Linked DNA regions of Homo sapiens: regions 2, 3 and 4 are each linked to region 1. Evidence: fine-mapped expression QTL. A gene starts in region 1. Each other region holds a variant in brackets. All regions are shown on one strand. Distances are from middle to middle.

Region 1 (8,313 bases):
CCCACTAAGACACTAATTTCTTGGCACTAGAGACTTCATCTTAATTTACCTCTATTTCCCTCATGCCAGGGAACACATTCAATAAACGAAGAGTAAATGAATAAATTAAAAGGGAAAACCTCAATATTTGAGAGTAACTGAAAGAATAGCTCATATGATGGCTTATAAAACAGTTTTAAAGATGCAATTTTATTACTATCTAAAATAGTCAACTATGCAATAACAAAGCATTTTCCAGTATGGGTTCTTCTACTTAAAACAAGAGAATCATTTCAAACTGGCACATATACAACCCTACTTACAAACTAACAATTCAGTAGCTTATAAAGTTATAAAGATGGGCAGACAGTGAATTTTTGAAGTCACTCATTTATGTTATGTTTGAGTTTTTGACAATAAACATATATTCCTCTGGTAATCATTAAAAAATTTTAAAGTTACTTAACAATTCCATAAAGGAAACAAAAGATGGATTATTTATCATTGCTACTTAAAAATTAAAAATAATTATTTTCCTAAGCATCTCTGGAACACGCTTCTGCATCTGATTGACCAAAAGAGAAAATAACACCCTAAGTGGAAACAAATACAATACTGAAAGGGAAGACTAAAACCAGTTCCCCTCCCTTTACCCTGCACTGCTCCCTTCACAAACATCTTTTCTTCCCCCACTAAATAAGCAGATACTGGCTAAAGACTTTCAATTTTACAATGCTAGTCCTGTTAAACTTTTCCTTAGAAAATAAATTTATCCAAAATAATGAGAAAAGGATAGGGAAAAAAAGAAAAATATTCCTCTAATGTTTTTAAAGAAGTAAAACTGCATTTAAACCACCACAATACTCCACTTTAAAAAGTTTGTAATAGTTGTATGGGTTTTTTTTTTTTTCTCATTCTCTGACCTTTACAGTACAGGCAGAAATTTAACAGGAGGAAAAGACGCAAGTATTAACTAAGATCTTTTTAATACAGAGATTAATCTCATGTTGGTAATGGTGGAGGAAAAGAAAGGAGAAGGAAAAAAAGAAGAGAGTAAACCACACACACAAAAATTTAACTGAGCAAAATGTTTTCTTTGGGTATTTGGCAGTTTTGTTGAACAGTTATACAATTTCAGAAAAACAATGTTGCCCAAAAGAGATGCTCAGATTCCTAAATACTATTTTCACATATTACCATCCTCTACCTTCAGAAGCAATTCTGTGAAGTATGTAGGGCAGGCATTATGCTCCCTACATTACAGAAAACTAAACTGAGTTCAGTTATTGTTTAAAATGAAACATAATTTCTACTCTACTACTTCACCATAAAATCATAAAGATAGAGCTGGAATAGACTTTAGTGTTCCTTTTACAGTTAATTTTCCCCATTTTACAGATGAGGAAAAGTGAAGCTCAAGAAAGTCAAATTACTAACCAATGTTAGAGAACTCTCAGTGACAGAATGAAGATTGGAATGCAAGTCTCTTAACTTCTGGCCCAGTGCTCTTAATCCCACCACCACACAAGTTGCCATGCTGGAACCTTTAAAAATGTTACAAATCTCTACATGAGTGAGTCACATTATTAGGTCTGCAAAAGGGAAACCATATATTTAAAAACAAAAAAAAAGGAATTAAGCAACAAATAAATTTAAATGTAAAGCTACCAACAACCTTCAAGTCTTTTCCCTAAAATCCGCTTTTATGTGTTCCTACATCCTCCGTCAAACTACAAGTTCCCTAAAATTCCCATAAATTGTAAATATTAAGATCTCAAAATTTTTGACTGATGAAATTAAAAAAAAAAAACATTCTTCAGTAATCATGCTCCAACTTCCCTAATAAGCGCCAAAGCATATTACTGACAATAATAAGTTATTTTACTTAACTATTTTTCATTGTATATGTTCACTAAAATATCATTTCCACTGTATACTTCCAATTGAAACAGAGTAATTAGATCTGGTAGACAATCTAATGCACATGCATTAATGAAAATGTGATAATTGATTGGCAAACATGTATTATGAGGTGGAAGGTTTTTTTTTTAAGACTAGAAGAGGTTGAGATTGAAAAGAGTATGTGGTTTATAATGCAGTAAGAATGCAGACAGCATGAACCTAATAAACACATGGTGAACAGATCTTACTCACTTCTTTGGCAAGATATTTGAACAAATGTTTCAATTCCTAGCCAGCTGGGAAGATATGCCAGACTCACAGACAATTCTATAGGCTGAAAGATCCAAAATCTTATCTGATTCATTTACATGCAAAATTACACAAAGGGAGCAAACCCAAGGGTATTATTATTAAAACTAGAGCACACAGGTTTTGAGAGAGAGGAGGGAAGTAATTCATTCATTTCAACCTGGCCTAACTGAAGGCCTCGAGTATCAGATAAGGCCCTAAATACTCTAGTATTTCAAAAATTACACTGTCCCTGCCCAGAGAAAATTCACACTCAAGCAAGGTAAGCAATGTATTTCTTAAGAAACTAAAAATATAAGGCAAGTGCTAAAATATGACGTTTCAATAAATCAAAATATTTGACATGGATATAATAATGATCACATTCAATGCATTTTAACTTTCACAAGTTCAATAATACAAGAGGCTGAAGCTTCCCAAAACAGGAAGTGAAAAAAACAGTGCTTTTGAGAAAAGGCAATGAACTGGAATTATTAGAGTTCAAATGCCCAGAATTTCATTTAATCTTATTTATGAAGGTGGGATATTAAAGTTTGATTGCATTTATCCTACAAAAATGTTTAATAAATGCTTAGAAAAGGTATTTTGCCCAAATACCCAAATCACTTTTGATGTTACTCTCACTTCCTCTTTTAGAAACCATCATAACCATTTCCTTTAAACCACAATACCACAGGTCTAGTAACTTTTATAATATTTGACTTGTTCATTTTTGGACAAAATTCATATAGGAATCAATTTCCAAGTTTTTTAAGCAGCACAATCTCCCCGAACAGTTCAGGTCAATGCAACCTCTAAGTAATACTATTTAAAACTGAATTATTCCTAACCTATATAAATTTATAACCTAGGCTCCTTGGTAAATGCAGAGGGGCTTCTTTGTCATGACACTGAGCTCCTGCCACATAAAAGGTAACAAACTGAGTAAGCATGTTGCAGTTACTCTCCAGATAGCACTGGGTTTAGAGTAATAAAGCCTTGCAATTAGGTGAGCAACCAGACTTTGTCCTTATCCAAAATTTATCATCATTAAACCAGGACACTCTTTAGAATTAGTGTCTACATCAAATTGTAAAAAATAAATCAATTTTACACTCAAACGCTTGGAAATGAATTTCCAAAGAAAAAAAAAAAAACCTTTCTTCAGAAGCCCTCTCAACCTACAATCTATTGCTATGATTAAACTAAACGGTAACATTCACGATATATTAAAAAGCCAACAAATAGTTATGAAGGTATGACATCAAAGACACATTGGAAACTCGATGGATCTAAATTTTCCAAATATCTCTTTTTCTCTTTATCAAATTGTTTAAAACTTACCAACCTTGCCTTAAGGGGAGAGATTTTGTTGTTTTGTCCTACGATAATGAATGTAATTATTTGTTCTATCTTTACATGGACTTTTCTAAACTTCCAGTGGTCTTCCACTCCTTACTGTACTGAGGACATGTAAAAGCCTTTAAATGGGCCTATTAGCTATAGTTGCTCAAATTATCAGACTATGCTATAAATCAGCAGCAATTGCAACATTTTTACGGTTTTTATTTTGTACAGACACCGAACTTTAAGAAATGGTATTGGAAAATCTAACATGAGGAGGAGTACAGGGGAAAGAGTAGAAGGTTGTTATTCCAGTTCTAGTGACTCACAGCCTAGAAGTATTTCAGAAAATTGGTTCCACCCTCACTTCCCCCTCCTCTCCACCTTCAAAATGAAATAATCCCAAATCGTCAACACACTCTCAATGGCTTTTTATTTAGCAATCTAAAATAAAGTGGCAAAGTGGAGGGGATACGGGATTCATCCAATCAGCCCTTCTCTACCCACATTCCCACACCAAAAAATGGGGATGTGGGGTGTAATCCCTGTTCACTGCTGCCATCTCCGTAAGAATATGGAACACTCAAGTTTTCCTACCCACCTAGAATTTCGCCCACCCACCACCCTCCCTTTCCTATGGGCCCCATCATGGGGGCGGGGGCGCCGAGGAGGGGACAGCTCCCGGCTCCCAGCGGCGCCCCCACCCCGTGCGAGGCCCAGCGCCCGATCCCGCCGCCGGGAGCCGGGAAATGGCTTCTCTGCCTTCGGCCGGCCGGCGAACCACAGGGAGAGGCGCCCGGGACTCCGCATTAGGCCGCGGCGCATCCAGGCGACCCCGGGCCGGGCCTCGGGCGGCGACGCCGAGATTTCTACACCCGGCGCCTCCTGCCGCCCCCACCCCACGGCCTCCCTTGCCCTTCATCCCTCCCGGGCCCGCCCGCCTCCGCCGCGGCCTCCCCGGCCCGTGCGCACCTTCTTGATGTTGTAGAGGCGGGTGAGCATGCCGACGCCCCGGTCGTTGAGGATGGTGAGCTTCTCCGCCAGCTTCTGCTGACTGGGCTGCAGCACTGAGCGCGACATGGTGGTGCTGGTGCCGCCGCCGCCGCCGGCCGCCTCGCGCCCAGTCACGGGCCCGCGGCCTTCGCAGCAGCCTCTCTCGGGCCTCCTCCCCTCCCGCCCGCGACCTCCGCCTTAGGAGAGCGCGCCCATGGCCCTCGCGCCCCAATCCCGCGCCGGCGACAGAGCGAGCCGCGGCGGACTCCTCGGAGCCCCTTCTCCCGCAGCAGCCCGCGCCCCGGCAGCCTCCTGCCTTCCGCCCGCCGCCCTTCCGCCCCCACCCCCGGCGCTCTCCGCCCCAGCCCCCAACGAGCCGCCTTCCCCGGCTGCTCCACTAGGTGTGGCGGCGGCGGCGGCGGCGGCGGCGTCTCCGGCGGCTGAGAACGAGGCCGCTTCCCGCAGCCCCGGACGGGCCCTCGGTCACCTGATCGGCAGCGCCGGCGCCCCCGCGAGGCCGGACGGGGAACTGCGGCCGACGGGCCCTCGGCATGGCCTCGCCGCCGCCGCTCTGGCCCTGGCCCTGGCCCGGACCGCCCACTACGCCTGATGCCGGGATGGGAGTCCCAAGCGGGGACTGAGTGGGGTCGCGTTGTGTGCTCTTTCCACTTCGCCCCACACCCCACTCCTTCAAGTTCCCAAAAGTTGCTTTTCCGCACCACCCTTCTAAAGAAACCGGCAGAAACTCTGCTGGGAGGCGGGGTGTTTTCCAGGCGAGTTTCGCTTAAGAGTGGGCTGGTGGCTCCAAGCGCTTTTTCCTCCCACTGCTTGACAGGCGCTCGCCGCAGAACACAGCAGATGTTGTGCTCCGCGAGGTGGGGATCGCCTCTGCCAGCCTCCCCAGCCCATCCTCAGTCTCCCCGCCTGGAACCAGTTTGTGAGAGAGGAGGTCGGAAGTGAGGGTAACTCAAGTCCTTGAGATAATCACAATCTAGACTTTGTCGGCGAGGAGCACCCATCCGGAGGAGACGCAGTAGGTCCTGGCATGTGGAAGGCAAAAAATAAATGTTTGTTCAATGCCTAAAGGAACCGCTCCCATTTTTTTACAGCCTCCACCCTAAATCCCACTTCTTCTTGGAAACATTCTTCTTTGCCATCTCATTTTTCCTGATCAATTTCTTCTTAGCGACACTCCAAGGCTACTCCCTTGTCAAATGTATTAGACATGATTCCAAAAGTGAACTAACTGAGGACTTACGTAATTGAGGTGAGAAACTTCAGCCAAGAGGACTCAGGCCTCTAATATTTTTGGCTTTGCCTTTTCTCGATATGTTAATTTTTTATATTATATTCATTAATTTTAAGTCAGTAACAAAATGTCCCGCCACATTCAATAAGACATTCTAAGAGTAATAAGCCATCACTGGATTTATCAAAACTCTTTAAGAAAAGGAAATTGTAATGAATAGCTTTAAAATATTTTTTAAAGCTACTATATCTACTATTCGTAAAGAAATCTTCATTTTAATATTCCAACAAGAAAGAAGGAGTGGACTGAATGGATTTAATCTAAGGGGCATTTAAAAGAGTCCTGTTCCCACCAAAAGAAGTCATAATCATACCTGCCAGTGTGCCTGAAATTCTATATACAAAGCTGCAGTACCTTGAATGAATGCTTTGTACCTAGAGAGTCTTAAGAATACAAACACTTCAGAGAGATCATCTGTCGAGCTATTACTAGTCATTAACTGGTCAAGGAATTTAATTTATCTGGTTACTTCTCAGCCTGATAGTTAACATTTTAATTTAGAGGAGGCAAGGTTGTGGGGCCTGGAATAGTAAGGGCAGACCTGAGAAGGGGAGGCTGCGAGGAGGGGTTTGGGGTAGCCAGATAAGAAAATTTAAAAATGTTGAACATTGGGGAAATATGTGCTCCTTTAGGGAGACTACAAATAACTAAGTCTAGACGCAGAATTACAGAGTGCTACCAATAAAAGATTGTCTCATTTTCTAGTTTTTAAAAACTGCTGTATAGGGAGAACAAGAAAATGGCACTGTATTATAAATTTGAACACAACTCTTACTCCCCAAGAAAAACTATCATGTTGCCATATAAACTTGAATACTAGTAGCTGCTTATAACTCAGGAAGTACCCAATAGGAGAACGCTGTAGATAGTAGTCTCATTATTCAATATTTATTGTCACTAATTCATAGACATACTGGCCCTAGACTGTAATGAAATGTATATATTTGCGTAAAAGAGATTAGATGTAGATGAATTACAATTTTTGTCTTTCTCTACATTTTGCATTAAAAAGAACAAGTGTACGGGAATTTTTCTTAAACTTTTTAACTTTTTTGTAGAGACAGGGTCTCCCTATGTTGTCCAGGCTGGTCTTCAACTGCTAGGCTCAAGCTCCATCACACCTGTAACCCCCACACTTTGGGAGGCCAAGGCAAGAGGATTGTTTGAGTCCTGAAGTTCAAGACAAGCCTTGGCAACATAGGGAGACCCCCATATCTACAAAAATTTAAAAATTAGCTGGGGGTGGTGGCGTGCCTGTGGTCCCAACTACTCTGGAGGTTGAGGTGGGAGGATCACTTGAGCCCGGAAGGCAGAGGCTGCAGTGAGCTGTGATCACACCCCTGTACTCCAGTCTGAGTGACAGAGCAAGACCCTGTCTTAAAAAGAAAGAAAGAAAGAGAGAGAGAGGAAGGAAGGAAGGAAGGAAGCAAGCAAGCAAAGGAGGGAGGGAGGGAAGGAGGAGGAGAGGGAGGAGGGGAAGGGAGGGGAGAAAGGAAAGAAAGAAGGAAGGGAGGGAGAGAGGAAGGAAAGGAAGGAAGGAGAGATGAAAGAAAGAAAGAGAGAAATTGAGGCCAGGCACGCTGGCTCACTCCTGTAATCCCAGCACTTTGGGAAGCCAAGGTGGATGGCTCACTTGAGGTCAGGAGTTTGAGACCAGCCTGGTCAACATGGTGAAACCCATCTCTACTAAAAATACAGAAATTAGCCGGGCATGGTGATGCGTGCCTGTAATCCCAGCTACTTGGGAGGCTGAAGCAGGACAATCACTTGAACCCGGGAGGAGGAGGTTGCAGTGAGCCCCGTGATTGCACCACTGCACTCCAGCCTGGGTGACAGAGTGAGACTCTGTCTCAAAAAAAAAAAAAAAAAAAAAAAAGGAAAAGTACATCCATCATCCAGCCTCCCTTGCAGCTTATGTTCTGACCAGTAAGATATAAGCTGTCAAGAACCTTCCTAAAGGGACTGCTGCTGCTCTCCATTTGCCAGTTCTTCCTCACTTCCTTCATTCTGCCACACCCAACAAGGATGCAATGACCACTATCTTGAACCAGGAAGACAACAGCCACTCAGTAAGGATGACAAAACATAAAAATGGAAGGTGTATGTGGGCTTTTTAGAACACAACAGCCATGTCAAACTTGGCCTGTCTAGACCTGGTTTTGTACGAAAGAGAAATAAACTTCTAGCTTTTTTATTTGTTTTTTTTTTTATTTACTTACAGCCAAACGTGATTCTCAATAATCCTCAAACGTGATCCTCAATAATAAGTTTCTGTGGCCAACTTTATAATATCTCTAATAGGAATAAAATAAGGGAGGATAACTAGATTTAATAGTTATGGTTTTTGCACTGTGTCAGATGTTGTTACAATTTGAGCTACATTTTCTCATTTACTTCTTTCAAAAACCTTTAGAGATATTATCATCTTTAATTTTACAGATGAGAAAACTGAAATGCAGACAGTTTTTTTTTTTAATTGCCAAAGATCACACCCATAG
Region 2 (8,313 bases), 74 kb after region 1:
TTATAAAAAGAAATGGAATATTTTCTGAAATAAGAGTCTAAGCTCCAAAGTCAGATTGTCAATTTAAATTTTGACTTCACTGCTTACTTGGGCAAATTAACTTTTTAAGATATTTCAGGCCGGGTGCGGTGGCTCATGCCTGTAATCCCAGCACTTTGGGAGGCCGAGGCGGGCGGATCATGAGGTCAGGAGATCAAGACCATCCTGGCTAACACGGTGACACCCCGTCTCTACTAAAAATACAAAAAATTAGCCGGGCGAGGTGGCGGGCGCCTGTAGTCCCAGCTACTCGGGAGGCTGAGGCGAGAGAATGGCGTGAACCCAGGAGGCGGAGCTTGCAGTGAACCGAGATCGAGCCACTGCACTCCAGCCTGGGCGACAGAGCGAGACTCCGTCTCAAAAAAAAAAAAAAAAAAAAAAAAAGATATTTCATAGAGTACTTTTAAAGATTAAATGAGATAATGTGGCTTAATAGTAGGCACTCAGTTTTTTTAAAAGTTGAAGTAGATTTCTATATCATGGGTAGCTCAGGAATGATGTTTTCTCACAACATAAACCATATTCTTATAATAACAAAGACTCTCTTTCAATAAGTAATAATATATACTACAATTCTCATTAATTATAGAAAAATGAAGAGTCATAAAAGCTTTCCTTAAAAAAAAGTAAATTACCTTTTCAGTAGAGTTAAGAAAACGGGAAATCACTGGTATTCAATTCTGTGGTCTTTTCTCTTTCAGCAAATAAGAACAGCTATACCTTGTCCGCCACCGCAAGCTGAAGTATGTGGCTCTTTGATACTGCAGACTCTTTTTTTTTTTTTTCTTTTTTTTTGAGATGGAGTTTCACTCTTTTTGCCCAGGCTGGAGTGCAATGACACGATCTCAGCTCACTGCAACCTCTGCTTCTCAGGTTCAGGTGACTCTCCTGTCTTAGGCTCCTGAGTAGCTGGGATTACAGGCGCCTGCCACCACACCCAGCTAACTTTTTGTATTTTTAGTAGAGATGGGGTTTCACCATGTTGGCCAGGCTGGTCTTGAACTCCTGACCTCAGGTGATCCACCCTCCTCGGCCTCCCAAAGTGTTGGGATTACGGGCGTGAGCCCTGCGCCTGGCCCTGTCTGTATAAAACAATTTGAATGACAGTGGATTTCTTATCAGAAGACATGGAGGCCAAAGGGAAGTGGCATCATATTTTTCAAATGTTTATCCTACAACCAGAAAAAATAGTCTTTAGGAATTAAGGGAAAATCAATCAAGACATTCTTGCTTTTTGGTTTTTTGTTTTTTTTTTTTTCTTCTAGATAGGATGTCTGTTGCCCAGGCTGGAGTGCAGTGGCATGATCTCAGTTCACTGCAACCTCTGCCTCCCAGGTTCAAGCAATCCTCCTGCCTCAGCCTCCAAGTATCTGGGACAACAGGTATGTGCCACCATATCCAGCTAATTTTTTGTATTTTGTTGTTGTTGTTGAGACAGGGTTTCACCATGTTACCCAGTCCGGTCTCGAACTCCTGGACTCAAGTGATCAGCCTGCCTCAGCCTCCCAAAGTGGTGGGATTATAGTTGTGAGCTATTGTGCCTGTCCTCAAGACATTATTATATGAAGGAAAATGAAGAAAAGCTGTGGCCGGCAGACCTGTTCTAAAATAATAGCTTAAAAGAAGTTCTCTAAACAGAGACAAAATGATATAGGAAAAAAATTCTTGGAACAAGAAATAACTTTGCAAACAAAATATGACTGAATAGAATAAGCTTTCCATGTCACCTTGAGTTACTACATTAAGTTTGAGGGTTTAAACCATAATGGTAACAGTCTGATGTGTTTTTATCTGTATGTAGAGGAAATATCTAAAACAATTATATTGCAAATGGGGAAGGATAAAAGGGCATAAAAGTTTCCATATTTTATTTGAAATAGTTAAAATAACAGTAGTAGAGTGTGATCAGTTATGTATATATAGTGTAGTACCTAGAGCAACACCAAATCTACTCAATCCCTTCCAGAAAACAGAAGAGGAGGAAACGATTTCCATTTCGTTTTATGAAGTTAGTATTAGCCTGATACCCAAAACAGGCAAAGAAAGAATACAGCCAAGATCACTCTTCAATACAGATACAAAAGTCCTTAACAAAATATTAGAAAAAAGAATTTAGCTCTTCCTTCCTGTAGGAGACAGCTTTTTAAAAAACTCAGCTATTTATAAAAAGAATGACGTAGCATGACCAAGTGGATTATGTCAGAGATGCAAGGTTGTCTCAACTATTGAAAATAAATCAGTATAATTAACCATATTAATAGGGAAAAGAAGAAAAATCACATAATCATGTAAATTAATACCGAAAAAAACATTTGACAAGCTTCAACACCAATTCATCACTCTCAGAAAAATAAGAATAGAGAGGAAACTTTCTCAACTTGATAAAAAGCATTTACAAAAAACCTCTATAGCTGCAGACAGTGGCTCACGCCTGTAATCCCAGCACTTTGGGAGGCAGAGACAGGTGGATCACCTGAGGTCAGGAGTTCGAGACCAGCCTGGCCAATATGGTGAAACCCCGTCTCTACGAAAAATACAAAAATTAGCCAGGCATGGTGGCACGCACATGTAGTCCCAGCTACTTGGGAGGCTGAGGCAGGAGAATCTCTTGAACCCAGAAGTTGGAGGTTGCAGGGAGCCAAGATCCTACCACTGCACTCCAACCTGGGTAACAGAGCAAGACTCCATCTCAAAAAATAAAAATAGCCGGGCACGGTGGCTCACGCCTGTAATACCAGCACTTTGGGAGGCCAAGGCGGGTGGATCACGAGGTCAGGAGTTTGAGACCAGCCTGGGCAACATGGTGAAACCCCGTCTCTACTGAAAATACAAAAAATTAGCCAGGTGTGGTGGCAGGCATCTGTAATCCCAGCTACTCGGGAGGCTAAGGCATGAGAATTGCTTGAATCCGGGAAATGGAGGTTGCAGTGAGCCGAGACTGTGCCACTGCACTCCAGCCTGGGCAACAGAGTGAGACTCCATGTCAAAAAAAAAAATAAATAAAAATAAAAAACAAAATAAAATAAACCTTATAGATAATATTATATTTAATGGTGAAAGACTAAATGCTTTTCTCCTAAGATCAGGAACAAAGCAAGGATGTGTGTTCTCACTGCTCTTCTTCAACATATTGCTGCAACTCCTAGCCAGTGTAATAAATCAAAACAAGGAAATAAAAGGCAACAGATCAGATAGGAAGAAATAAAAGAGTTCCTTTTGCAGACTGCATAGTTGTTTACATAAAAAATTCCAAAGAATTTACAAAAAAACTGAATGCAATTGTACTTCCACATGCTAGCAGCAAACACAACCACTAAGATTAAAAATACAATATGATTTACACTCACTCAAAAAAACAAAAGTGAAGAGGCCGAGCGCGTTGGCTCAGGCCTGCAATCTCAGCACTTTGGGAGGCCAAGGCAGGCAGATTACCTGAAGTCAGGAGTTCGAGACCAGCCTGGACAATATGGTGAAAACCCATGTCTACTAAAAATATAAAAATTAGCTGGGAATGGTGGTGGGCACCTATAATCCCGGCTACTCTGGTGGCTGAGGCAGGAGAATCGCTTGAACCCGGGAAGCAGAGGTTGCAGTGAGCCAAGATTGTGCCATTGTACTCTAGCCAGAGTGAGACTCCATCTCAAAAAAAAATTAAAAAAAAAAAGTGAAGAAATATTTAGGTGTAAATTTAATATAACATGTACAGAACTTATATGCCAAAAGCTATAGAATGCTAATGAAGAAATAAAGAGAGATCTAAATAAATGTAGAAAATTGTTAATGTATTGAAAAATTAAGTGTAGTAAAGGTATCAATTTACCTCAAATTGATACACAGCTTTAATCAAATTCCTATGAAAACCTCAGCAAGACTTTTTACAGATACAGACAAGATTATTCTAAAATGTATACGGAAAGGCAAGAAACAAAAATAGCTACAACAATTTTGAAAAAGAAGAATAAAGTAATCTGGTTTCAAGACTGGTTATATAGCTACAGTAAACAGGACTGTGTAGTATTGGCAAAGAGACAGACACTTAAATCAATGGAACAGAACAAAAAAATCCAGAAGTAGACCCATATAAATATGTTCAAGTGATCTTTGACAAAGGTGCAAAAGCAATTCAATGAAGGAAAGGTAGCCTTTTTAACAAATGATGCTGGAGCAATTGGACATCTGTATTTCCATAGGCCAAAAAAAAAAAAAAAGAAAGAAATTCTATGTAATCCCATACCTTCAACAAAAATTAACCAAAAATGGAGTATAGACTTAAAAGGAAAACTAAAACACTTTTAGGAGAAAATCAAAGAAAATTGGCCAGGTGCGGTGGCTCATGCCTGTAATCCCAGCACTT[T/G]GGGAGGCCAAGGAGATCAATCACAAGGTCAGGAGATAGAGACCATCCTGGCTAACACAGTGAAACCCTGTCTCTACTAAAAAAAAATACAAAAAAATTAGCTGGCGTGGTGGCAGGTGCTGGTAGTCCCAGCTACTCGGGAGGCTGAGACAGGAGAATGGTGTGAACCCGGGAGATGGAGGTTGCAGTGAGCCAAGATTGCACCACTGTACTCCAGCCTGGGCAACAGGGTGAGACTCCATCTCAAAAAAAAAAAAAAAAAAAAAAAGAAGGAAAATCACTGGGTTCCAGGGCTAGTCAAAATGTCCTTAGACTTGACACCAAACTTGTGACCCACAAAAGCAAAAATTTATAAATTGGAAATTTATAAATTGGACCTCATCAAAATTAAAAACTTTGCTATTTGAAGGACCTTGTTAAGAAGATGAAAAATGGAAGAACATATTTGCAAACCGTGTATTTGACAAAAGATTAGCATCTAGAATATATTTAAAAAATTCTCAAAATTCAACAGTCAGAAAAAAAATCAACCCAATTAGGAAATGGACAAAATGTATGAAGAGACACTTTACTGAAGAGGATATACAGATGACAAATAAGCACATAATAAAATGTTCGACATCATAGCTACTGGGGAAGTGCAAGTTAAAACCACAATGAGATATCACTACATACCCACCAGAATGGCTAAGAGATAATGACACACCAAATGTTGGCAAGGATATAGAGAAATGGAATCACTTATATGTTATTGGTGGAAGTGTAAAATGGTACGGCTACTCTGGAAAAGATTTTGGCAGTTTTTAAAAAAGCTAAATACACAACTACTGTGTGACCCAGCAACTATACCCCTGGGCATTTTCCCCAGATAAATGATTATATATATTAATACAAAAACGTGTACATGAATGTTTATAGACAGTTTATTTGTAATAGGCAGAACTGGAAACAACCCAGATGTTCTTCAATGGGTGAATGGCTGTCTAAAGTGTGATGCATCCATGCCATGGAATACCATTCAGTAATAAAGAGGAACAAACTAATGATGTGTGTGCGTCAAGCCGAATGAATCTACAAAGAATTATGCTGAGTAAAAAAGTCAATCCCCAAAATGTTACATACTGTATGATTCCACTACTATAACATTCTTGACATGACAAAATTATAGAAATGGAGAACAGAATAGTGATTTTCAGGAATTAAGGAAATGGTGGCAGGAGAGGGAAGTTGGTGGGGTTATAAAAGGGCAACATGGTAATAATAATGTCCTTTAACTTGATGTATCACTGTTCAATATCCTGGTTATGACATTGTACTTTAGTTTTGCAAGATGTAATCATTGGGAGAAACTGGGTAAGGGGCCATGAGATTTCTCTGCATTGTTTTTTACAACTGCTGGTGAATCTATAAATATCTCAAAAATAAAGTTTTTAAAAGGCTTAATGAAAAAAACACAAGTCCTTGACTTCATGGAGCTTATAATCTAGTTGGGAGGGAAGATATGGATTATTTTTTAAAGTACAGAAATATATAACTCAAACAGTAACCTCATCTAGTTATGAGGGAAGGCTTTCCTGACTTTTGAGTGACATTTACCATCGGTTAGAAAAGATAAGTAGGCGTTGACTAAGTGAGGGAGAGTGGGTTGTTGCAGGTCTTCCAAAACTGAGGGAGGAGAATAGGTAAAGACCCAGGGTTGGGAAGGAGCATGACACATTGGAGTGATGGAAAGAGGGCTGAATGGCTGGAGCAGTGAACCAGAAGTGATAAGGTGGTGTCAGATGAGGCTGGACTGTTAGGCTACATCAAGCAGGGGCTTGTAGGAAGCTCTAGGATTTTGGCCTTTTAAACAGTGAAAGAAACTGAAAAGTTTTGAGATAGGATCTCGCTCTGTCACCCAGGCTGGAGTGCAGTGGCATGATCAGGGCTCACTGCAGCCTCAACTTCCCGGGCTCAAGCAATCCTCCTGTCTTAGCCACCCAAGCAGGTGGGACTACCTGTAGCAATCCCACTTCAGCCTCCCAAACTGTTAGGATTACAGGTGTGACTCATTGCACCCAGCAAAATGGAAAAGTTTTAAGCAGGAGAGAAACTTATGCAGAATATTACTTTAAAAAGATCAGTCTGACTGCACTGTGGAGAGTGGATTAGGGAGGGAAAGCAAGATCATTAAGGAAGCTAGGTCCAGGTCTCAGGTGATGAAACTGAGATTTTGCTGAAGCAGTAAAAATTGAAAAAAAAATGGATGCATTTAAATGGTATTTAGGAGGTAGAATTCACAGGACTTGGCATTGAATTTGTGTTGGAAAGAGAGGTTTTCAACACCATCCATGGTTTCATGCTTTAATAACTAGATGGCTGGTGGTGCCATTCCCTGAGATAAATATTCAAGTTTTATACAAAAGACCATGAGTTTGGCTTTTTAAATTTGATTTTGAAGTACCTTTGAGATATCCAAGTCAAATAGATATGTCAAGTAGGTAATTGGATACATAAATTTGTACCACACAGAATGATCTGGGCTGGCGATATGAATTGAGAGTCATTGTAGGCAATGTGCATGGATGACAACATATGAGGAAAGAGTGTAGGGCAAGGCCAGATCATAAGATAAAGCCTTGGGGGACAATTTTATTATTATTATTACTATTTTTATAGAGACAGGGTCTTGCTATGTTGCCCAGGCTGGTCTCGAACTCCTGGGCTCAAGCGATCTTCCTGCCTCAGCCTCCCAAAATGTTAGAATTATAGGTGTGAGTCACTGGCACCTGGCTATGGGAACAATTTTTAGTGGCTAGGTAGAGGAGGATGAGTCAAGAAAAGACATGGTCATATGGTGAGAGAGGCAGGAGGGAACTCAAGAGAGTATATTGCCAGAGAAACTGAAGGCTACAAAGAGAGTGTTCAAGAACTCACACTGAGAAGTTACAAAAGGTTAGAACCTAAAATGTATTGGATTTAGCCTCATGGTGGTTGTATTAGTCTGTTCTTGCATTGCTATAAACAAATACCCAAGACTGGGTAATTTATAAGAAAAGAGGTTTAATTAGCTCATAGTTCTGCAGGCTGTATAGAAAGTATAGTGGTATTTGCTTCTGGGAAGGCCCCAGGAAGCTTTTTACTCATGGTGGAGGGGAGAACAGGAGCAGGTGCTTCACATGGTGAAAGCAGGAACAAGAGAGTGAGGTGGGACATGCTACACACTTTTAAACAACCATATCTCATGAGAACTCACTATCTCAAAGACAGTACCAGGAGGGATGGTGCTAAACCATTCATGAGAAATCCACCCCCATGATCCAATCACCTCCCACCAGACCCCACCTCCAACACTGTGGATTATATTTCAATATAAGATTTGGGTGGGGACACAGATCCAAAACATATCAGAGGTCTTTGGTGACTTTGGAAAGACTTGTTTGGCAGATTAATGGGGGAAGAAGCCAAATTAGTTTATCAAAGGCTACATCGTATGCTGAATGACAGATAAGACCATTAGGCTAAAATTCAATTGTTGAATATATTATATTTAATATATATCTATTGCTGGGTAAATAAGTCAATGTATTACATGAGGTAGGTAAAATTATTCACACTATTCAGATTTTTAAAACAGAGTCTTAGAGATGTTAATGTCACATGTCTATTAAGTATTTGAAGTCAAGATTTGCACCTGTAGTCAACAACACGCTGATTCTCTAAACAAAGGCATTATCAAGCAAGGAAAGATTCATGTTTTCCTTTTTTCGTTTTTTGTTTTTTGAAGAGACAGGGTCTCATTCTATCACCCAGATTGGAGTGCAGTAGTGTGATCATAGCTCACTGCAGCCTCAAACTTCCTGGGCTCAAGTTATCCTCCTACCTTAGCCTCCCAAGTAGCTGGGACTACATGCGTGCATCACTATGCCTGGCAAAATTTT
Region 3 (8,258 bases), 25 kb after region 1:
GAGACGGAGGCTGCCTCTGTCTCCCAGGCTGGAGTGCAGTGGCACGATCTGTGCTCACTGCAACCTCCACCTCCTGGTTTCGAACAATTCTCCTGCTGCAGCTTCCCAACTAGCTGGGACTACAGGCACCTGCACCACCCTGCCTGGCTAATTTTTGTATTTTTAATAGGGGCGGGTTTGAGATGGCCAGGCTGGTCTCAAACTCCTGACCTCAGGTGAGCTGCCCACCTCGGCCTCCCAAAGTGCTGAGATTGCAGGCATGAGCCATTGCATCTGGGCTTTTAAAAAACGTTTTATGTGAAATCTCGTCTCTACTAAAAATACAAAAAATTAGCCGGGCGTGGTGGCAGGTGCCTGTAGTCCCAGCTACTCGGGAGGCTGAGGCAGGAGAATGGCGTGAACCCGGGAGGCAGAACTTGCAGTCAAAAACACAAACAAACAAAAAAAACATTTTTATTACAGAGAATTTCAAACATGAAAAGAGTAAATAGAGGAGTATATTAACTTCCCATGTAATGATCACCCAGCTTTGACACTTAATGACATTTTTCCAAACCTGAATGTAAAGGTTTTGTCCGTAATCTAAACCAGAACTCTTATTTATGCTAAAATAATACATTAGAATAAAAAATAATATAATAGAAACTCTTTTTGTTTTCTTTTTTTTTTGTTTTGAGACAGAATCTCGCTCTGTCCTCCAAATTGGGGTGCAGTGGTGTGATCTCAGCTCACTGCAACCTCCACTTGCCAGGTTCAAGAGATGCTAGTGCCTCAGCTTCCAGAGTAGCTGGGACTACAAACGCACAGCACCACTCCCAGCACAATTTTTTTTTTGTTTTTTGATACGAAGTCTTGCTCTGTCGCCCTGGTTGGAGTGCAGTGGCTAGAGTGCAGTGGTGAGATCTCGGCTCACTGCAACCTCCGCCTCCCGGGTTAAAGCGATTTCCCTGCCTCAGCCTCCTGAGCAGCTGGGATTACAGGTGCACGCCACCATGCCCAGCTAATTTTTGTATTTTTAGTAAAGATGTGGTTTCACCATGTTGGTCAGGCTGGTCTCGAACTCCTGACCTTGTGATCTGCCTGCCTCGGTCTCCCAAAGTGCTGAGATTACAGGCGTGAGCCACCACGCCCGGCCAATTTTTTTTTTTTTTTTTTTTTTTAAAGACAGGGCCTTGCTATGTTGCCCAGTCTGGAATACACCAGCTATTCACAGGCTCACTGTAGCCTTGAATTCCTAGCCAGAAGCAGTCCTCCCTCCTCAGTCTCCCAAATAGTTGGGACTACAGGTGTTGAAAGCTAGACATTTTCACATTTCTTAATGGTAATTTTTATCAACATTTTAAAAAGAAGAGATGGTAAGAACAAATATCAAAGTGACACTCTTGGCAATAGCCAAACCAAGGGGTAAAACATGTCTATCAAACTGAACTTAAGCTAACAGCATGTGATATCATAATTATATGAGTAGTGCTTCCTAAATCCTGGTTTCTTCGAGAAGTAAGAATGTACCCAATGCTTTCATTTTGCTGAGTCACCATGTGGAAAGAGAGAAAAATCAACCACTTACTGAATGAATCACTTTGTTTTTCTTCTAAGTAATTTGCTCTTCTTTAAGAACTGGCAGGCATGAAGCTACCAGGACTTGTGCTACCTGTCTTGTCAACAGTAATACTCACCCAGGGATTACAGAAATGCTTTTAATAATAACATAGATCAGACACAATCTAAATTCTCATAGTAGGAAAGAGTTACAGGAGTTATATAGTAAACCTACACCAAGAAATTTCGTAGGAATTATATGCCAATGAAAGAAAATGTAGGTAGGCAGGTCTTAGTAATGTATATCTGCCTCTTTAAAGTGTTCTAGGGTCATAACCAAAAAGATTATGTAATTCAGACAAATGGGCCTTCTGAGAGGTATATCCGTTCTTGGTCTGACAAGGGATCAGGACAAGACAGGCATAGTGATCTCAAGTCCCACTTGGCCTGTGGACAATGACTGATTGGGTTGGACATTTGAGGTACAAAATCCAGACTAATTTATGGGAACCAAAATAAAGTTGCACTTGAGCTGTTTTACATCTTCTGTGGCACTTTGATGGAAACCATGCACTGAAGAGCCCATTGCCTAAACCATCCCATTCATAGGCATTCTATGGTGCTGCTCTACTGTTTTAAAGTCCCCAACATTCTTTGCTTTAGCCAAAAAATGTAGTGGCACTGACTGCAGAGGGTGGCTTTTTAAATATACTTACGTCCAAAAGGTAGATGCAAATGCTCCAGACCCCCCTTTCCCTTTGTTAGCACGGATTAGGTCAGTAGGCAGCCTTGTATTGAGGAGGAAGGTGTAAGAGGAGTTAGTCTGTTTAGGGGTGGGTCTGGTGGGGTCTGGGGTTGGGAAAAGAATAACAGCGATAGTCTTGGTCTGGCCAGAATGTGCTGTAAGAAGTTCCCTATGCCCTGATAAGAGAAGGAGGAAGTTCTCTGTAAGGTCCTCTGAGCTGGTCGCACCATGGTCGAGCCATCGTGACATTCCCCCGCCCTTGTGATAATGTACTTTGTGATATTCCCCAACCTTGTGAATGTACTTTGTAACATTCTTCCCCACGCTTGTGACAATACACACTCACCGCCCTTGAGAATGTACTTTGTAACATCCATCCCCCGCCCGCAAATAATTGCTCCTGACTCCACCGCCTATCCCAAACCTATAAGAATCAACGATAATCCCACCACCCTTCGCTGATTCCTTTCTCAAACTCAGCCCACTTACACCCAAGTGAATAAACAGCCTTGTTGCTCACACTAAGCCTGCTCAGGTGGTCTCTTACACGGACAGGCATAACATTCTCCTTCCCTGAAGAGAGCAGAAGGAGAGAACTTATCAGCATTCAGGAATGCTGTGAGAGAAGATGTGGCACTCCAAAGGCAGGAAACCATTTCAAAGAAATGTGCTCAGAGTTGGGCGGTCAATAAGGATTGCTTTCAAAGGAAAAAGATGGTGTCACAATTCTGCCAAAGCCTGCTCTGAAAAAAGGTTTACCCTTATAAAAATAAAGGGGCTGG[G/C]CGTGGTGGCTCACGCCTGTAATCCCAGTGCTTTGGGAGGCTGAGGTGGGCAGATTATGAGGTCAGGAGATCAAGACCATCCTGGCCAACATGGTGAAACCCTGTCTTTACTAATAATACAACACATTAGCCGGGTGTGGTGGTGCACACCTGTAGTCCCAGCTACTCAGGAGGCTGAGGCAGGGGAATCACTTGAACCTGGGAGGCAGAGATTGCAGTGAGCTGAGATAGCGCCACTGCACTCCAGCCTGGAGACAGAGCAAGACTCCGTCTCAAAATAATTAATAATAATAATAATAATAATAATAATAAAATAAAATTTTTTAAAAAAAGGGCCTATCTTCTCCCTATCCCTCTAAATCTTGGAACATAGATAATTTAATGGCACTGGGAGTTGCAGTGTTAGGGGGAGTGGTAGAGCTACCAAACCCAAGTAGTCAGCTTTCCATTTCCCAGGAGCTGAAGAGGGCTGGGTAGAATCAGCTCTGCTTTTTACCATTCTCTTCATTGACATCTATTCTGCCCCTGTTCATTTGAGGTTCACAAAGGCTTTCCTGCTTTCTTAGAGGAGTCTGACATCAAAACCCCAGCAGAGCCAATGTGGAGGGGTATGTGAAGGATGAGCATCTTTAAAATTACAGAAAGTGGTTTTCCCCATTGTGAGAACACTTTTCAATCTATTCTCACTGGGAAAATTAAGATATTCTAAACTTTAAGAAAATGCTGTCAACTTTAATAGGAAAAAAAGACTAAATTATTTGGAATTTATGGGAATGCAATCCAGTTGTGATGGTAAATAGTTTTATTTGTTTTTTTTTTTTTTTTTTTTTTTTTTTTTTTTTTTTTTTTTTTTGAGATGAAGTCCCACTCTTTTCACCCGGGCTGGAGTGCAATGGAGCGATCTCGGTTCACTGCCACGTCTGCCTCCCGGGTTTAAGCGATTCTCCTGCCTCAGCCTCCTGAGTAGCTAGGATTACAGGCATGTGCCACCACACACAACTAATTCTGTATTTTTAGTAGAGACGGGGGATTTTCACCATGTTGGCCAGGCTGGTCTCGAACTCCTGGCCTCAGTCGATCCACCGACCTCGGCCTCCCAAAGTGCTGGGATTACAGGCGTGAGCCACCATGCCCGGCCCGGTAAATAGTTTTAAAAGTCTCTTTTATTTAACCTAACAAGGGGCAAAGATTGCCTAACTTAAGTTTCAGTTGTTTTTATTTCCCCTGCTTCCCTTCTCATAATGGTTTGAGTGGAGAAATCATAAAATCATAAGTTTAGACCTAAAAAAGTCCTTGGAGATAATTTCTTCCCCTTCATTTTACAGATAAGAAATCTCAGGCCTGACAAGGTGGCTCACACCTATAATCTCAATGCTTTGGGAGGCCAAGATAAAAGGATCATAAGCCCAGGAGTTGGAGACCAGACTGGGCAACATAGTAACACCCCCATCTCTAAAAATTAAAAAAAAAAAAGAAATTTGCCAGGCACAGTCGTGTGCACCTATAGTCCCAGTTATTTAGGAGGCTGAGGCAGGAGAATCCCTTGAGCCTGGGAATTCAAGGTTGCTATGAGCTATGATCTTGCCACTGCACTCCAGCCTGGGTGACAGTGAGACCCTGTCTCAGAAAAAAAGAAAAAAAAGAAAAGAAATCTCAGAACAGATAAATAGCTAAATGTAGGAAGTCAAAAAGTTGCAGGAGAGACATTAAGTATAGATAATTCATAAAATAAAAATCAGATCCACGAAATCCTGAGTTTGTTGTAGAAAATGTCATTACACTTAACAATATTTTCTCTGCAGATCTGGATATGTGTTTGTTGTCTCTATTTTTGTTGGTTAAAGAATGGATCAAGGTTTTACAAAATTGTTTTTTGCTGCCACAGTGGAAATCTACAAAAATGGGTAATAGGCTATTTTGGGACCATTGTTCAGAAGTGCATTTATCTTAGAAATGGTTACCATGGAGATGAGCACACGTTGTGTGACTCTACAGCTTGCAAGTTAGAGTCATCCATGCTAAGACATAAATAGCTATATTATTACACACAGATGCACAAGAGCTCGTGAACACATGCACAATAAAGTTATGTTGTTCCTCTTTTTGTAAAATAATAATAAAATTCCATGTAGTGCTGACATTTGGTGGTGGAAGGGCCTGCACATCTTAGACATTTTAAAATGTAATATTGTATGATGATATAAAAACCACTTTTTAAAAACACCATAAAGTAGTCTGAATCAAGTTTAAAGAGTAACAACATACTTAACAAGTAAAATAAATGAGAGCATGTTTCTTAGACATCACTGCTTCTTAAAGTAGAAATACAAAAAAAGTAAAAAACAAACTCAGAAAATATTACAAAAAGTTCTTGAGTTATTTTTCCCAAAGCACTCAATATTGGGCATAGGTATTTACCTAGTTTCTCTCTCCCTCTCTGGCTAATTAAGTACTTTCTCTTTTTTTCTTTCTTTCTTTCCCTCTTTCTTTCTTTCTTTCTTTCTTTCTTTCTTTCTTTCTTTCTTTTTCTTCCTTCCTTCCTTCCTTCCTTCCTTCCCTTCCCCTTCCTTCCCTCCTTCCTTCCTTCTTTCTTTTGTTTCCCTTTTTTTTTTTTTTTTTTTTTTTTTTTTTGAGGCAGAGTCTCACTCTGTCTCCCAGGCTGGAGTGCAGTGGCGCGATCTTGGCTCACTGCAACCTCCCCGCTTCCCGGGTTCAAATGATTCTCCTGCCTCAGCCTCCCAAGTAGCTGGGACTACAGGTGCTCCCCACCATGCCCCGCTAATTTTTTGTATTTTTACGGGGTTTCACCCTGTTAGCCACCAGGATGGTCTCAATCACCTGACCTCATGATCCACCCGCCTCGGCCTCCCAAAGTGCTGGGATTACAGGCATGAACCACTGCGCCTGGCCTTGTTTCCTTTTTCCACTTGGACTTTTCTTTTTCTTCAGGAATTTTTTACCCTCTGTGTCCCCAGGCAGCTGCATCACCCTAGAGAGGTCAAAATGGTCACAGCACCATGGAATGCTCACTGGCAGACCGAAAAAGCACCCGCTGGATGCTGAGGGAGTCTGCAAAGAAAATAAAGGTTTTAACATTTCAGTGATCACTTGCCGAGATCACAAAGGCATATATTCTGATAAAGTTAATTTGCTTTAATATTTTTACCTTTTTCTTTACATTTTATAATGGATGTTTTCAAATTTTCAAACAAAAAATGAAAGGATAGTAAAATTAAGCCCTCTCCCAGGTATCCGTCACCCAGCTTCAATACTTATCAACATATGGCTTATTCTGTTTGGTTTACAACCCTCCTTCCCCCATCGTTTTAAATCAAATGCAAAACATCATAATAACAATTCTTTTGAATAATTGAACTAGTCAATAAGAAATCTTTTTTCCTCCACAATTTGGAGTTTTTTCTATTTTCCTTGGAAACTTCAAAGGCTTCATTGTGTATAGGGTGCAACGCAGGGTACTGAATTCAGTAGTGTAAACAATAATAACTATAATAATAATAGTAATAATAATAATGCTTTCTCCATCATGCAAGTGATTAAATACACCAATGATTTAGCCACATTTAGCTTTGAAGCTACATGCCATCATTCATCTATTTCTTTTCTTGTGTGAAAAGAAATCTTTTCTCATGCACCAGAGTTAATTTTTTCAAGACTAATTACTGCATATGTATTTAAACACATCTTTAAAGTAAGCCATGTACTTTGACTTGTTTTATAGAATCACAAGAAATATACATAAAATAAACAAAATACATGTTTTCTGCTTTTTTAAGACAGTGATTTTAACACATCTGATTAGTAAACAAACAACCTATAATAGCTAAAGAGTACACAAAAAGTACAACTATAAAAAAACTAATCATCTTTCACAATCTTTTCATTAAAAATAGCCATGTATGGGCGAAGTGGGTTGGCTCACACCTGTAATCCCAGAGCTCTGGGAGGCCGAGGTGGGCAGATCACTTGAGGCTGGGAGTTCGAGACCATAATGGCCAACATGATGAAACCCTGCCCTGTCTCTACTAAAAATACAAAAATTAGCCCGGGGTGGTGTCACGCGCCTGTAATCCCAGCTACTCAGGAGCTCAGGAGACTGAGACGGGAGAATCGCTTGAACTCGGGAGGCGGAGGTTGCAGTGAGCAGAGATGCACAACTGCACTCCAGCCTGGGTGACAGAGTGAGACTCTGCCTCAAAAAAAAAAAAAGTCACATATGATTTCTCAGTATTTGCTGCCATTTTCAAACTTAGGCATCATGTAGTTTTAGAGATAAAATCAACAAAATACAAAACGTAGGTCAGCAAAAAAGCTGATTATATAACCTTGATTTGCTTTCATTTTAGTACTCTTATCACACTGCCTTCTAGAATTTCAGTACTGAATAACTTGTGAAGTTTTTCCCCCAAATTTGTCCATCTAATATGGCTTATTCTCAAATGAAATATTATTTATCAATGTATTAATAATTAGATCCACGCCTTTAAAAATACATATAAAGTTTTAAAATCTTAATCTTTTAAATCTGTCTCAGGAAGTAAAAGATTTTTAATGTAGAATGAGAGACCCCTCAGAAATCAGAAAAAACATCTTTTCACTCTACATAGCCTCATCCAGGTTAATTAATATGTCTTTAAATAACCATTGTTTGAAAAGAGTTAGCGTTTCACCTTTATGTATAGCTCTAGTGCTTCTAGCATTTAACTATTCATCCTTATAAAATATCTACATAAATAGCTCCAGGAAAATATACAGGTTTTTAGGAACATTTCCAAGAAAAAAGTTACAGGGGACTCCTGACTCAATTGAAAAAGAAAGGATTCAAGATTAAAAAAGAGACATGTCATATTGTATTGGACCAGTTGATTATTCTAAATAATACTGACACTACAATAAATTTTGAGGGACAGTGCTATAGCTTTCTAATTCATCAATTACAAATCCAGAAATAGGGATGCTTTCCTTAGTTGATGTATAATCCAAACATCTTCTCAGCTTGTTGGATACTATTCTGTTGCTGTCTCTACCAGTACATAAGACAATGCATTCAATAACTTCATTACCCACCATATCCTTTTAGTTGACATAAAAGTACTTCTTTTAAACTTCAAAACATGTTCCCTATTATTTTTAATATCCTAGGATTTTATTAACTTCGTTCACATTATCCATAT
Region 4 (8,268 bases), 210 kb after region 1:
GAGAATTTATATGTCAGGCCAGTGTTTCTCAACCCTTTTTAATAGACTGTGTAAGCTTGCAGGGTACAGTAGACAGACTTCTACTTCTACTTCTACAGTAGACTGACTTCAGACAGTAGGGAAGCTTCCTTCTGTTGTAGATGACCATTCCAGCTTTAGTCAAATAAATATGGGAATACCTGAAGCAGGTATAAATTTTGTCCACAGTACTTGAATTAATGCATTCATAGCTTTTGGGGGGCAATCCTTTGCTCTTCAGTCCAATCCCATTTGATTCCTTAAAGAGAGTAGCTCTATACATTTTGTACTAAGCTCAGAGTGGGAATTTTTGCTAGGGCTGAAACTCTTGGCCTCTTGTGTTACATCTTCTCAGAACCTTCTCAGAAGGTTCACTTTCGTCTAAGGTTCTGCTAATTCTCCTGGCACTCTGGGAGCACGGTTCTGGTTTCTGCTCTATGAGTGACCCATAAACTCTGCCAATTTATTCTAAGTCCCACTGAGAAAAATTCTTAAAGAGTTACTATTTGTCATTTAGGATATATTTTACATAAAGAGTAAATAAATATACATGTATGTACACACATATGTGTATATATATGTATAATGAATATGTATACACGCATATATATGTTATACTACGCTTTCTCTTCCTATAAATATATACTCTATATGTAGTCTAAAAATGCTTTGTTATTGAAGATCTGTTTAGCTAGTAAGTTTCTTTTCATTCATGAAAAAGACAAAATATATGTTTCTAGAGGTTATTTAGTAATTACATAACATAAATTGGATATAGAAGTTATATAAAGTTTAATCTCTAATACTGTAAAAATATCTCTTGAGGGTATTGTGGTCTTGTTTTCAAAGAGTTATATTTTAGGGATACATACTAATATGTTTACAGAGAAAATAATCTGACGTTTGGGACTGGTTCAAAAACGATCTGGGCAAGAGGAGGGAAGTTATAGATGAAACAAACTTGATTATGTTGATAATAATCTTAATTTTTCTGTATACATTTGAAATTTTCCTAATTAAAAAATACCCATATGTTTGAAACACATATACTTCTGTCCTCTGACCCCACACTCATAGGGAAAATTGGTGGAAATAAAATGCAGATCTCCTGCAGTGTAAACGTGTGACCCTGAAGCCCTAAGTTGTCAAAACTTCCAATTGCTCAGTGGCACTAAAGTGCATGCATTTATTTCCAGGAGTATTTAGCCCATGTTTCTATTCATTTCCTCATCATTAAATCTCAGTTTCAATAGCACAGGGTGCCACAAGCTAAGAATCAGGTGAAACTTCCTATGAAAATAAATGCAGAAATTCCCAATTGTGTCTATCCTAATAAAAGCAAAAGGAACAACTAATTACCTATCTTATTTTAGAAAATAAAGTCATTGACAAGGTCATAGCCCTGCTATCCAACCTGACTGTGGATTATTCTGAGTACAAAGCAAAGCTAGTTTTTTTTTTTCTTGCCAGCGAACTCTACAAGGATATACCTATACTGATCTTTCTCAGGTTATTTTGTAATCACACTAAACTTGACTCCATGGCACCTAATTATTCCTTCAGGAACCCCTCCTTCCCTGCCACTGACCATGTATAGAAATCTGAAAACATTTATAAAATACAGTTGAATATATATTTTTTGGTAATAAAGATTTTATATTTGAAGACATGTTTACTAAAAGGTATTTCATTTATAAAAATTTAAACTTTCCTTAGTTTATATTTGACATTATTAGAAAATCAGTTCTCCATGTGGAACCTTTCATCTAAAATGTCGCAGGAACTGGGAATGGAAAAAAGGAAACTTTACACATTCTTTCACATCTTGAGTTTTTCACATGCTTTTTCTTTGCCTGAAATCTCTTCCCCATCTGTCCCTTGCCAGGTGGTAAATTCTTGTCCATCCTTCAGGGGCCAGCTCAGCTCAAGTCACTTCTTGCCTGATGTCTTTCTCAGTCTGTAAAGGATGCGACAAGGGCCTTTGCACACAGTATATCTCCACTATTGTTCTTACCACATTGTGCTGTAATAGCTGTTTTTGTATTTTTTCCCTATTAGATTACAAGCTCCTGCCAAGAAGACTTTAGTAACATTTATTAAATTGTTGGGTTGAATTGTGTATTCAAAGAACTGTTGAAATAATGGAGAGATTTCAAATAATAAATACATAAAAGCAAGAAAATGTCAGGGTTGAGGAAATGTTAACTGAAAAAATTACCTTTCCCCCAAAGTAATGGCTAAATATAACTTGCTTTTTGAGAAAGATTAAATCACCTTGAAAATAATCATTGACAAGAACATTTGTCCTACATTGTCACATCCAGTTGGAAAACTGCATTTAATAGTTTACATTCAATATAAAACTTGGACTCCTTCAAAAGATAAGTTGATTTTCCTCTTTACAACAAGATACAAGTTACTTTAGTACTTCATAATAGAATAGAAAAATGATTCAGGTTCACAACATGAAAAATACACTAGGAAAGAAAAAGATTTTACAGATAAGCTCCAGGTCTACAGTAAGCCAGAGCCTCACAAGAAGCTATTACTGTGTAAAGAGTAATGTGCTCCCTGTATTGAATGCAGCACAGTTGATGCGTTCCAGTGGCATCATAAACAACAAAACCCAAGTTCAAATCATTCACCTGAACTTGTAATTGAATTTTTCAAGATGTGATTTAGTGTAGTAGATGGAACAAGGATAAAATATTTCAAATGCAACAGTGATTGAACAAGTTAGAAAAATTAGTAGGGAGTGAATATTAATACGGGGTAGTGTTCAGACATCTTGAGATAGGAAAGCTCCTCACTCACCTAATTTAACAGTGAAAGAGAAAATAATACCAGGCTGAGTAAGAGGACTAGTGAGCAAGGAGAATATAGGACAATATTTTACCTTTGGAATGATAAACTTAGTGAAGTCGCTGAAAGCTGTGGTATGGATGTATCTTTTTTAAGAGTGCTGGATTAAAACTTAGGAAATATAACTATAAATCTCAGCTCATAGGTAGGACTCAACAGGCCTCCAGTTCCAAATTTGGAGACTCTCTTCTTTTTATTAAAGTGTATTCAAATGTACTACATTACTCAGAATTTGGCTGGCTAAAAGATTTATAAATTTGATGAGTTGCGAACTTCTTTTACCAAAATATGAGCTCCAAATGCTGTGAGCCTGGCAATTCTGTTTGTGTGAATGGGCTTTGGATTTCCCAACATTAAAGTTTAGTATTTATTGTTGGGTCTGCAGTGTATGATGAGAAATACTGACATGAATTTCACTGTTTTGATAATGCCAGCACCAGGGCAGAAACACTTGGTAGGACTGAGATGGCAACTGATTCTACAATATTGAGTGGCTTTCTAGTGAACCCTCAAGGCTTTGAATGGAAGTGCACTGATGTTTTTCATTGTTTGCTGGATGTAGCCTTTTTCCTGATATTTGGAGGTA[ACT/A]CTCAATTCTTACCTCCTTTCCTTGGAGCTTAGAATTAGAGTCTGTTTCCAAATATAGCCAGCAGATGGTGCAATTTACTTTATTTATACTCCATCTCAAATGAAAAAGCATTAGACTATTCTATATACATACACACACATAATATGTTTCAATCTCATTCATATGTACAAATTTAAGTGTATGTTTCAAAACTTTTTATCTATTCGGAAACAACCTATTTAACATAATTTATCTCCTTTTAGAAAAGCAGTGTTCATTTTTTAGAGTTTTGTTAATGATTCAGACTTATATTTTATTAGCTTTATAGACCTAAAAGGAAGACATGAGAGGAGACTATTAGTCATGACAGGAAATATATAATTTCTTTTTGATCAGTTTTCTTACACAATTCATAATCACATGTCCTGCAAGACAAGAGTAAAGCTGGTTCTGATGTGCCCATGTAATTCAGCAATACTTAGCTATAATTTTGAGAGTCCTGTAATAACAAATGTTAAAGTTCTGATTTGGTAAGTGTATCCAACAGAGCTTTCAAGTTGAAATTTATTTATGGAATCATTTCAGTTATTAGACTATCCATCCTATCTCTTGTCAATAAAGGATTGTTTTCCATAGGAGATAACTAATAACTTTATAGAATTTTAAGATGTAATAGAATGTTATTGTCCCCTGGAGGTCACACTTACCAACCAAAGGGTAATAACTTTTATTAGAAGGCTGAAATAGTCTATAAATATTTCATTAAATCCTTAAAAATGTGCAGGTGTTAATTCTGCACTCTCTTCTTTTGATTTCTGGCTACCACACTGAGATGGATAAAATGTTCCTGGGAACCTGGGGAAAATGCAATTGTGCTGAATTTATCACCTGTAATATTTCCTGGTGGGATTATCTGAATACATGTGGATTTTAGGAAGAATCTTCTCAGAAAATTTCATTATTATTCTAAATGCTAGGCTCAGCATCTAAGTTCTGCCTTTATCATTCTCTCTCCCAACATGTTCCTACCAATTCTCAGCTCACTTTAGGCAGCAGGTGAAGAAAGGAGAGAAGACACTACATTTTCTGGCCATCTTAGTCGATTCAAAAGCATTTATGGAGCATCTGTCTGTGCAGGGCACTGGCGTGGTGCTGAGCTGATTGAGTTAAAAAAGACATAGACCTTGTCCTTGAGGCAAAGCAGCTGCCAATTGCTGACTCCAGGGAGAAGTGTTTTTATTTCTTCAGTATGGGCAAAGTTGCCATGGAGCAGGTTATGTGCGGGTTTGAACAGGTAGGGGATGCCCACATCATTCCTATCATCCTAGTAAACAGATAAAAATTTCACTTTATCAGACTGCAAAGAAATGCAGTTTAAATTTCTGAGAAATTAGAATTATAGAATACTCTAAAACAAAATATAGTTTTGACTTTCAGGTTAGCATTGTAACTAATGACATATTGCAAAATCGAAGTCCCTTCAGGGTTCAATTTAATGAATACAGAATAGAACTTAAGGTAATAAAACAGATTCTCACACAAAGGGTTGGTTAGATTTTGCATCTGAATGACACTCTGCTGTTACCACCCAGAGCATCTTTTCTCTTCTTGAACCACAAAAAAGACTTGGCTTTCTGCTTTTACTTCTCTCGAACATCATTCCTATATAATAAGTCACTTGTACAACACTTGCGCATAAGCAATGAGTATGAGGATATTTTGTGTGTGACCCATTTACTTGAAGGAATTGTTCTATTCTAGGCTCTTTGGTTGCAAGGAACAGGAACCCACTCAAATGGTTCAAGAAAAAAGTGATTATTTAAAAAAGAGAGAAATTCATGAATAGAAAATACAAGAACAATAGTCAGGTTTTATAATGAATGTCAGAATTCTATTTTCTTTCTCTTTTTATTTTGTAAGTTACTTTTAACAAATGGTCCCAGGTGAACTTGAGGAGGTCAGGCGGGGCCAGCTGTATTAGTCAGGATTCTCTAGAGGTACAGAACTAATAGGATGGATATATATATATATATATATATGATATTATATATATTTATGAGTTTATTAAGTAGTATTAATTCACATGATCACAAGGTCCCACAATATAGGCCTTATGCAGGCTGAGGAGCAAGGAAGCCAGTCTGAATCCCAAAGCTGAAGAACTTGGAGTCCAAGGTTCAAGGGCAGGAAGCATCCACTATGGGAGAAAGATGTAGGCTGGGAGGCTAAGCCAGTCTAGCCTTTTCACGTTTTTCTGCTTTATATTCTGGCTGTGCTGGCAGCTGATTAGATGGTGTCCACCCAGACTGAGGGTGGGTCTGCCTTTCCCTGCCCACTGACTCAAATGTGAATCTCCTTTGGCAACACCCTCACAGACACACCCAGGATCAATACTTCGCATCCTTCAGTCCAAACAAGTTGGCACTCAGTATTAACCATCACACCAGCCAAAGCTGGATCATATAAGGTCTTGAGGTTATGGTCAGGGATAATCTTGTGGCCATATGTGAACAACATGAGAAGGAGAAGTAAAGCCCTCAAATGAACTGAGCTGATTGGATTTTCTCTTAAAAAATTGACCTGAGACATTGGTTATTTGTGACTGGCTCTTAAAATACTGGTAATAACATTTAATATTTGTCAAGAGCTTACTGTGTGTCAGCTCTTGTCCTAGGCTTTTTTCATGTTTTAATGCATTAATCGTCACAACTGTATGATATGGATCAGTGTGATTCCATTTTACAAATAAAGAATGGAGGCATGACTAAAAAGTAAAATAGCTTATACAAGTTGACAAAAGATGTAGTAGAGCTGGTACTGGAACCCAGTCAGTCTGACTCCAGAGCCTGTGCCTAGCCACTATATGACACTGTCTTCAAAGTGTTAGAGTGGGGAGCTGGTTCTATAGCAAACCAAAGCCACACGCAACTCAAAGTTATGGAGTAGGAGAGGCAGAATGATGAGTTAGCAGAAGAAGCAAGTATATGGGGAAGAACACCGAGCAGTTGCTCGCAGCAGCACCACCACTGCCTAGATTGAACAAAGCCTAGTACATGGCAGGTGCTCACTAAATATGGGTGGAATAGTGAATGAAAATTTTCAGCAGGGGCTGTGGGTGTGACATATCCTCTAAGAAGCTCAGGTGTGCCAGTCAGGCAGGAGCCTCCAAATAACTTATTTTGATCTGTTTCCTTTACAAATTAACTAAATTATACATACACTGCATGAGTACATTCTCCTTTTTAAAAACATAAAGCTCTGATCTAGAGAGAATAGAGTTCCTTTGGGCCACTTCCCCATCTTTGTTTCCTCCTTTCCACTCCCCAAAGATCCTTCCAGGCTTTGTTAATATATTTAGATATGTATATATAGAAAATGTTGGAACTCTAAATTGTTGTTTTGCTTATTTAATAAATATTTGCATCAGTATTATAGTGTTCATTTTTTCCCTCATTTAATGTATCATAGAGATCCAGCTATACTGTTATGATAGACATTCAGATGGTTTCTAAACTTCTTACTATTATAAAATTATGTTTATAATTTATATTACAGATTTTAAAAAAAAGAGTTTTGCTCTTTTGCCCAGGCTGGAGTGTAGTGGTGCAATCTCAGCTCACTGCCACCTCTGTCCCCTGGGTTCAAGTGATTCTCTTGCCTCAGTCTCCCAAGTAGCTGGGATTATAGGCACCCACCACCATGCCTGGCTAATTTTTGTATTTTTAGTAGAGACAGGTTTTGCCATGTTGGCCAGGCTGGTCTCGAACCCCTGACCTCAGGTGATCCACCTGCCTCGGCCTCCCAGAGTGCTAGGATTCCAGGCATGAGTCACCATCCCCGGCCTGTACAGTCTCATGATTATCTTCCAAAGAGTTTTTAATTTTTTATTACTTCTGAAACTCGTAAGTTATAAAAGAATCAAAGCATTATCTGAGATGTCAGCTAGTCCAATGACTGTAAACCAGGGTGGTGGAGTGGTAGTGGGTTTATCTAAATCACTTCTGAAGCACTTTTCCAATAACAGCCTCCCTATCTTCTGGAAGAATTCTGGTATGGCAACCATGTTACAGTGGCAGTGGGAGTGAGGGGGGACGGGAGGTGAGTGAGCACCTGGGTTGTTTGCTAAACTACTTTAGCAATTATTGTGATAGGTACCTACCCCCCAGAATGCCCCCAAAACATATAACTAGTTGAAGACAAAACCAGAGTTTGATGCAAAAACTCCTGCCAGTTTTAGTCTAGTCTTTTCCTAATTATTTTGCTTTGCCCTGACAATTCATCTTCATCTCCATAATCCTTATTAGTTCCAGATAGAAACTTCCTTTAATTTACTTAAACTCTGTTCTGGGAGCTCCCCTGCTCTCATCTTCTACACTTAAAAACAAATGAACAAATTAATGAACAGACAGCAACACAAACAAGCTAAAACAAACGGGCAGAGACGATCAACTATACACTGAAAACTCATTTTCTCATTTCCTGGCCTGGGGTTATTGCTGGGGGTCAGCTTCCCAGCCAGGTGCTGCTTTTCTTAGGCCCTTTTGCATCCAGGGGCATCCATGCACTCATCAGTTATCAACCACCAATCAAGCAGCTGTCTTCTTTCCCGTGTCTAATCAGACAAGGGTCATCTGTCACAGAACTATCCAATCAGCATTAAGGTGCCGAGTACAAAAGGCTGCTCAAAGAGAGAGTTTTTCTGACCAACAACATTCTACTTTATTGAGGATTTGGATGTGAGAGAGATATATATATGGAAAGCTGACATTTGGCTGTGGGAGCAGAAGTAAAAAGAGACACGGCGAGACGGACCTGAGGTA

The links.
Region 2: its variant is fine-mapped to the expression of NCKAP1 in whole blood (INTERVAL, PIP 0.97).
Region 3: its variant is fine-mapped to the expression of NCKAP1 in blood mononuclear cells (TOPMed, PIP 0.98).
Region 4: its variant is fine-mapped to the expression of NCKAP1 in Th1 cells (Schmiedel 2018, PIP 0.95).

What each region holds. Positions count from the first base shown.
Region 1 is chr2:183,033,507-183,041,819 of GRCh38, forward strand. NCKAP1 (NCK associated protein 1) reads right to left here and starts at 4,951. Exons shown (of 31, transcript NM_013436.5): 1 at 4,486-4,951. The coding sequence starts at 4,593. RefSeq lists silencers at 4,371-4,490, 4,551-5,140, 4,873-5,524.
Region 2 is chr2:183,107,766-183,116,078 of GRCh38, forward strand. No RefSeq gene overlaps it. Among named protein-coding and RNA genes, the nearest start is that of NUP35, 13 kb to the right of the region's middle. The variant T/G (reference allele first, on the strand shown) is at 4,394.
Region 3 is chr2:183,058,208-183,066,465 of GRCh38, forward strand. It overlaps LOC124900540 (small nucleolar RNA SNORA77), which reads right to left and starts at 6,139; the gene lies at 6,028-6,139. The variant G/C (reference allele first, on the strand shown) is at 3,067.
Region 4 is chr2:183,245,556-183,253,823 of GRCh38, forward strand. No RefSeq gene overlaps it. Among named protein-coding and RNA genes, the nearest start is that of NUP35, 130 kb to the left of the region's middle. The variant ACT/A (reference allele first, on the strand shown) is at 3,467.